2 separate regions of the Homo sapiens genome follow, and region 1 is linked to region 2. The links come from fine-mapping of genetic effects on gene expression. A gene starts in region 2. The other region holds a variant in brackets. All regions are shown on one strand. Distances are between the middles of the regions.

Evidence for each region. PIP is the estimated chance that this variant, and not a neighbour inherited with it, causes the effect. A credible set is the group of variants that fine-mapping cannot tell apart.
Region 1: its variant is the best candidate, but not a certain one, in a credible set for the expression of CD180 in lymphoblastoid cells (TwinsUK, PIP 0.55).

The regions. Positions count from the first base shown.
Region 1 is chr5:67,169,755-67,172,671 of GRCh38, reverse strand. No RefSeq gene overlaps it. Among named protein-coding and RNA genes, the nearest start is that of CD180, 26 kb to the left of the region's middle. The variant T/C (reference allele first, on the strand shown) is at 1,054.
Region 2 is chr5:67,195,377-67,198,219 of GRCh38, reverse strand. CD180 (CD180 molecule) reads left to right here and starts at 1,421. Exons shown (of 3, transcript NM_005582.3): 1 at 1,421-1,668. The coding sequence starts at 1,579. RefSeq lists an enhancer at 2,448-2,597.

The sequences.
Region 1 (2,917 bases), 26 kb after region 2:
AGCAGAGAGGATCCCTTGAGCCCAGGGGTTTGAGGCCAGCATGGGCAACCCATGTCTCTTTAAAAAAATGCCTTGGGCTTAAAAGAGGTAGCCCTCAGTTTATTAGGGAAATATTATACACCCAAACACATATTTAGCTACATTTCAATTTTTTAAAATCCCAAATAAGATAACACTACGTGGATGCTGAAAATACAGTACAAGAAATTGTGCCCCAGACTGGACAGACCCACAAGAGCATGTCTAATTGTTTGCCCTTTAATGACCTCATTAGTTTTACCTGGTCGAGCTCAAGGTAAATACCTTTAAAACTTCAATCTCTTGCTTTTCATTTAAAGTTTCTTTTATGTATTCGCTCTAAACTGGTTGTTCACTTAATAGCTCTTGCTATGGCCATTATTGGCTCTGTGATGTGTGTACTTAATATCCTTTGTGGGTTTTTTCTTTTATGGTGAAGACCGACTTTTCTGCATAGCATGATACCAAGTCCCATTAAAATGACCATTTCCATACTTACTTTTAAAAACTGTGAATCTTAGCAGAGTGGGTTCCTCTAAGCAGGGAAAACTACATCACGCAGGCAGTGAAAAACACTGTCATGATTCTGTCCCATTTCATCTTGCAATTTATATTGTAGTAGAATAGTGTGTGGGAGGAAGAAGGTCTCGTCTAATGGTAGAGGTTAAATGTATGGGCTGTCCAGTCAGATCGCTTGAGTTCAAGCCTCAGTCCTGCCAATCACGAGGGTTAGTCACTTAACCTCTTTCCAAGTTTTGGCTTCCTAATTTATAAAATGAAGCAACGTATAGTTCAAATGGCACGGAGATTAAATAAGAAGATGGAAATAAAGTATTTAGTGTGTTACTTGGCTTCTAGTAAATGTGCTACAAACAGTAGCGACTACTAATACTTCCTTTCTTGTTCAATTCGGTCCAGCAAATGTATTAGTCCGTTCTCACACTGCTATAAAGAACTGCTCAAGACTGGGTAATGTATAAAGGAAAGAGGTTTAATTGACTCGTAGTTCAGCATGGCTGGGGAGGCCTCAGGAAA[T/C]TGACAATCATGGCAGAAGGCAAAGGGGAAGCAAGCCACCTTCTTCACACAGCGGCAGAAAGAAGTGCTGAGCGAAGGGTGGGGAAGAGCCCCTTATAAAACCATCAGTTCTCATGAGAACAGCATGAGGGAAACTGCCCCCATGATTCAGTTACTCCACCTCGTCTCTCCCTTGACACGTGGGAATTATGGGGGTTACAATTTAAGAGGAAATTTGGGTGGAGACACAAAGCCTAACCATATCAGCAAATACTTATTGATGTCTCCGATGTGCTTTGTCCTAGAAGTAAAAAACAAGACAGAGAACCAGGGAGCTTGAAGTCTAGCAAAGAAGATACACATGTAGAAAGGTAACTCCAAAATAACGCAGTGAGTGCCATGAGGCAGATACACAGTGAAGCAAAGACAGTCCACAGGTCGGTCCAGGCCTTTCCAAAAGGCTTCCTCCAGATGTCTGAGTCCAGCACACATGCTGAGCTGGAGTTATCTAGGGTAAGGATACATTTAAGGAACTGGCCTTTACCCGAAGAATATGGGTGCTACTTAAAGGTTTAAAGCAGGGTAGTAACATGGTGTGCTTACACTTGAGCAACATCACTCTAGGGACATTGTGAAGAACAGACTAGAAGGGGTAAGAGCGAAGGCAAGAAAACCAGTTAGGAGGCTGTTGAGGTCATCTGGAGAGAGACTATGATAGAGACCAAACTAAGGCTGCCAGTAGCACAATAGTGACGGGACATGGATTGCACAGAAGAGTATATTGTGAAATCAGTGAAGCTTTTTTTTTTTTTTTTTTTTTTTTAAGATGTAAGGCAAGAAAGAAGAGTTTAGGCAGAAATCTAGGATCTGACTCGGAGAAAAGATGGGGAATACAGTGAGCTTTGAAAGAAGGGGCACCAAAATAAGCATATTTTTGGACATTTTGAGTGTGAGGTGCCTGAGCCAAGTTGAAATGCTCAGGGACCAAGGACGAACCCAGGAAACACCAGTATTTAAAGGGACAAGAGGACAAGGAAGAAATTCTCTAAAGAGAGAAAAAGAACAGGTTGAAGACAACTAGGAGAGAGGGCTGTCAGGGACAGACCGGTTCTCAAGATGGTCTACTGAAGTGATGTCTTGACAAGAGGGCTTTAGAGTCAGCTGTGTCACTGGTGACCTCTACCAGAGCGATGTTGATGGCATGGGTGACAGAGCCAGGTTTCAAAGGGGTGAAGACCCAAAAATACTAAGTGCAGACTCCTCTTGTAGGATGTCACCTGAGAAGGGACAGAGGGAAAAGGCCAGGTAAAGAAAGGGTTTTCTGAAAGGAAAGAGACAGTTGGGGAGGAAAAAGAGAATGCTGAGGCAGACTATGGTAATTGATGGAGCAAGTTCGTGAGAGAATGAGAGGAGGTGGTGGTGGTGTCACAGAGAAAGGAGAATCAAGACCCCCTGAGTGTGGGAAGATGGTGAGTGTGAGTGTAGAAGTTGGTAAGTTCTGCAGGCAAGGAAAAAGGTTGGTAGAAAAAAATAGGAAGAAGTTAAAAGAGGACTTAATCTTTTTTTTTTTTCTTTTTTTTGGAGATAGGGTCTCACTCTGTTGCCCAGGCTGGAATGCAATGGCACAATTATAGCTTGTTCACTGCAGCCTTGAACTTATGGGTTTAAGTAATTCTCCTACCTCAGCCTCCTGAGTAGTTGGGACAATAGGCGTACACCACCACACCCAGCTAACTTTTCAAGTTTTTGTAGAGATAGGGTCTATGTTGCCCAGGTTGGTCTCCAATTCCTAGCTGAAGCCATCTTCCTGCCTTAAGACTCCCAAATAGCTAGGACTACAGGTGAGCACCACTATGCCCAGCTAAAGGACTTAATGTTGAAGAAT
Region 2 (2,843 bases):
TGAAGATGGCATTTTAAGGGTGACCAGGAAAAGCCCAAATATGTGTAGCAGGCCTAGCAGACTGCCAAGTACATATTTCCTCCAATCCCCTCTGCTTTTTAGCATCTTTTCTGAAATCTCCAGATGAACAACATTCTTCGCCCCATCTACTCTTCAGCTCCTTCAGGAGGCAAAGTCCTTTCTTAAACTGTGAAGAGTAGCAGCATAGTCTCTGCAGTGAGATTTTCTGGATCTGAAGCCCTAATCTACCACTCTCTAATTGTGTGGCTTGGAGAGATCATTTAATTTCTCTTAAGCATCAGTTTCTACATCTATAAAATGAGGGAAATAATAATATCTCTCTTATAGAATATATGGAAATATTCGAGGATAGGAAAATGCAGCAAAAAACTGCATTAAACCTGACCCAGTGTCTGACACATAGTAAGGACTCAATAAATGGCAGATACTATAGTCATTTGATTCATCATAGTAATACTGTAGAGGTGGTGGTGGTGGTGGTGGTGGTAGTAGTAGTAGTAGCAGTAGTTAAGTCATTGTGAACTCTGATACTAAGAACTGGGCTCTTGGAAATGGAGTGGGAGAACAGTAACACCAAATATATCCTGTATGCCAGAGGGTTGAAGAACAGACAGAACAGGTAGCTAAATGCAGCCTATTGAGGAATGTTTGAACTTTGGCTTTCTTTAATCATTGCCACATCTTGCTCCATAATAAGGGTAATTGTAATCCTGCTTCAAAGCTATTTCTAAGAAGAAATAGAGCCAAGGCTGGCATCCCTAACTCTACTCTCCTTTAGCCAGGCTGCTCTATCTATGGCAGTGTCCCCTACTTCCCCAGGCCAGGTTAGGAGGGAACAAGAGAGTCCACCCCAACTGCTTTAACAAGCCTGAACCGCCAGGTCAAGAGATGAAGTAATCTTCCCCCTATACGAAGACCAGAGGTGGGGATGGACAAGGTGGCCAAGGCAGCAGCTGAGGCTCAAGGAGCAGATACACTCTCAAGCCTGCTCCCTCCTGCTCCAGTTCCCAGCTCAGCAGGTGCCACTGAAGGGCTCAGTTCTTCAGTCTGCCCCTGCAGAGTGCTCTGCCCTTCCATGTTCTCTGACACCTCTTCTATTCACTCACCTAGGACAACTAAGAAAGTGGCCTCCTTGGTGAGTAGAGCTTCCACAGCCTCTCTCGGGGAAAAGGACCAGAAGCTGTTGGAGTTGGCCAAATGCTTGAAGTTGGCATAAAGTCAATTGGAACCATCACAATGAGAGTCTGTGTGATCAGCCCAAAAGGACTGCACAACTGATTCATGTTCAGTGCCAGGAAATGCAACGGGCCATTCTGGGGTTGGGTCCTCAGTTATTTTTGGCAAAGATGGGTGGTATGCAAAAGGGACTTCCTTTTTTTTTTTTTTTTTTTTTTCCAGCACAGAGCCACAGAATGCTGAGCAGTCAACAGCATTTCTTGTTCCAAGATCACCCTTCTGAGTACCTCTCTGGCTGCCAAATTGCCAGGGCCTTCACAGTTTGATTCCATTTCTCAGCTCCAAGCATTAGGTAAACCCACCAAGCAATCCTAGCCTGTGATGGCGTTTGACGTCAGCTGCTTCTTTTGGGTGGTGCTGTTTTCTGCCGGCTGTAAAGTCATCACCTCCTGGGATCAGATGTGCATTGAGGTGAGTCCAAACTGTTTGTCTTTATGCAGATTAAACTGTCTGAAAATTTTGAGATTTAGCACGCAGTCCAATCTGAGCCTTGGCATCCCAATATCTAGTGTCTTTAAAAAGGAAATAAGGTGTATATATAATTTTTTCATTATTGTGAGAAAGGAGCCAAAGAACTCTGCCAGGGGATCATCTGGTGGCATCTTAATAGGAAGCAAAGAGAATTTTTCTCCTCTTCAAACAATTCCACCCAAATAATCCCAAGTGGGTCATAAGATATTAATAGGGTCTGTGTGCACAAAGCAGACCCCTAAACCTGCCTCAACCTAGGGGAGCTGTTGGTTTAACATCCCCACTCTCACATGGCCTCTATCCCAATGAGTCCTTTGGTCTCCTCTCAGGGTGAGAATTAGTAAAGACAGCGCTGTGCCAGGTTTTCGAGCATTGAAAAGATCACTCTGAATGAGTCTGGCTCTCTCTTGGACTTGGACAGCCTTCCATCTGTTTTACTAACCCATAGGAGGAAAATCTGAGAATAGAGCCAAATTGCACCTTCTGTTTTGGACCATAGCAATATTTATCAACCTGTGGGAAGTTCTTGGAGGGGATAATGAGAGAAAAAGGAGAAGGGCCTCCGTCTCTTGCCATCCTCTAAAATGCTTCAAACTTCCTCCCACTTTCTCTGACCCCACAAGTGATCAATACCACGTGGCCTGTCAGACAAGGGCTGCATACAGGAGGAACCATGAGTCTTGGTGGCTTGGTGAGCTGCTGGTCTGGGTTGAGGTAAAAAGAAGAGTAAGAGCCAGGAATAGCCAGATGTGGAGTTGCCCTGGGGCAGGACTAGAAGGAGATCAGAGGATCAGGAAGAGCAGAGCAAAGCCAGCACTGGGGTAAGGCTCAGAGCTGGGTGAGCAGAGCCTTGTTGGTCTGGCATTAGGATGGAATCAGCAGCAGGCCAAGAGGAGGCATCATGCCAATGAGAAATGAAGGCTGGGAAGGTGTGTGTTGCTTTGCTTGGGCTGTCATAACAAATGCCACAGACTGGGCCAGGCGTGGTGGCTCACGCCTATAATCCCAGCACTTTGGGAGGCCAAGGTGGGTGTATGCCTTGAGACTGGGAGTTCGAGACCAGTCTGGGCAACATGGCAAAACCCCATCTGTACTAAAAATACAAATATTAGCTG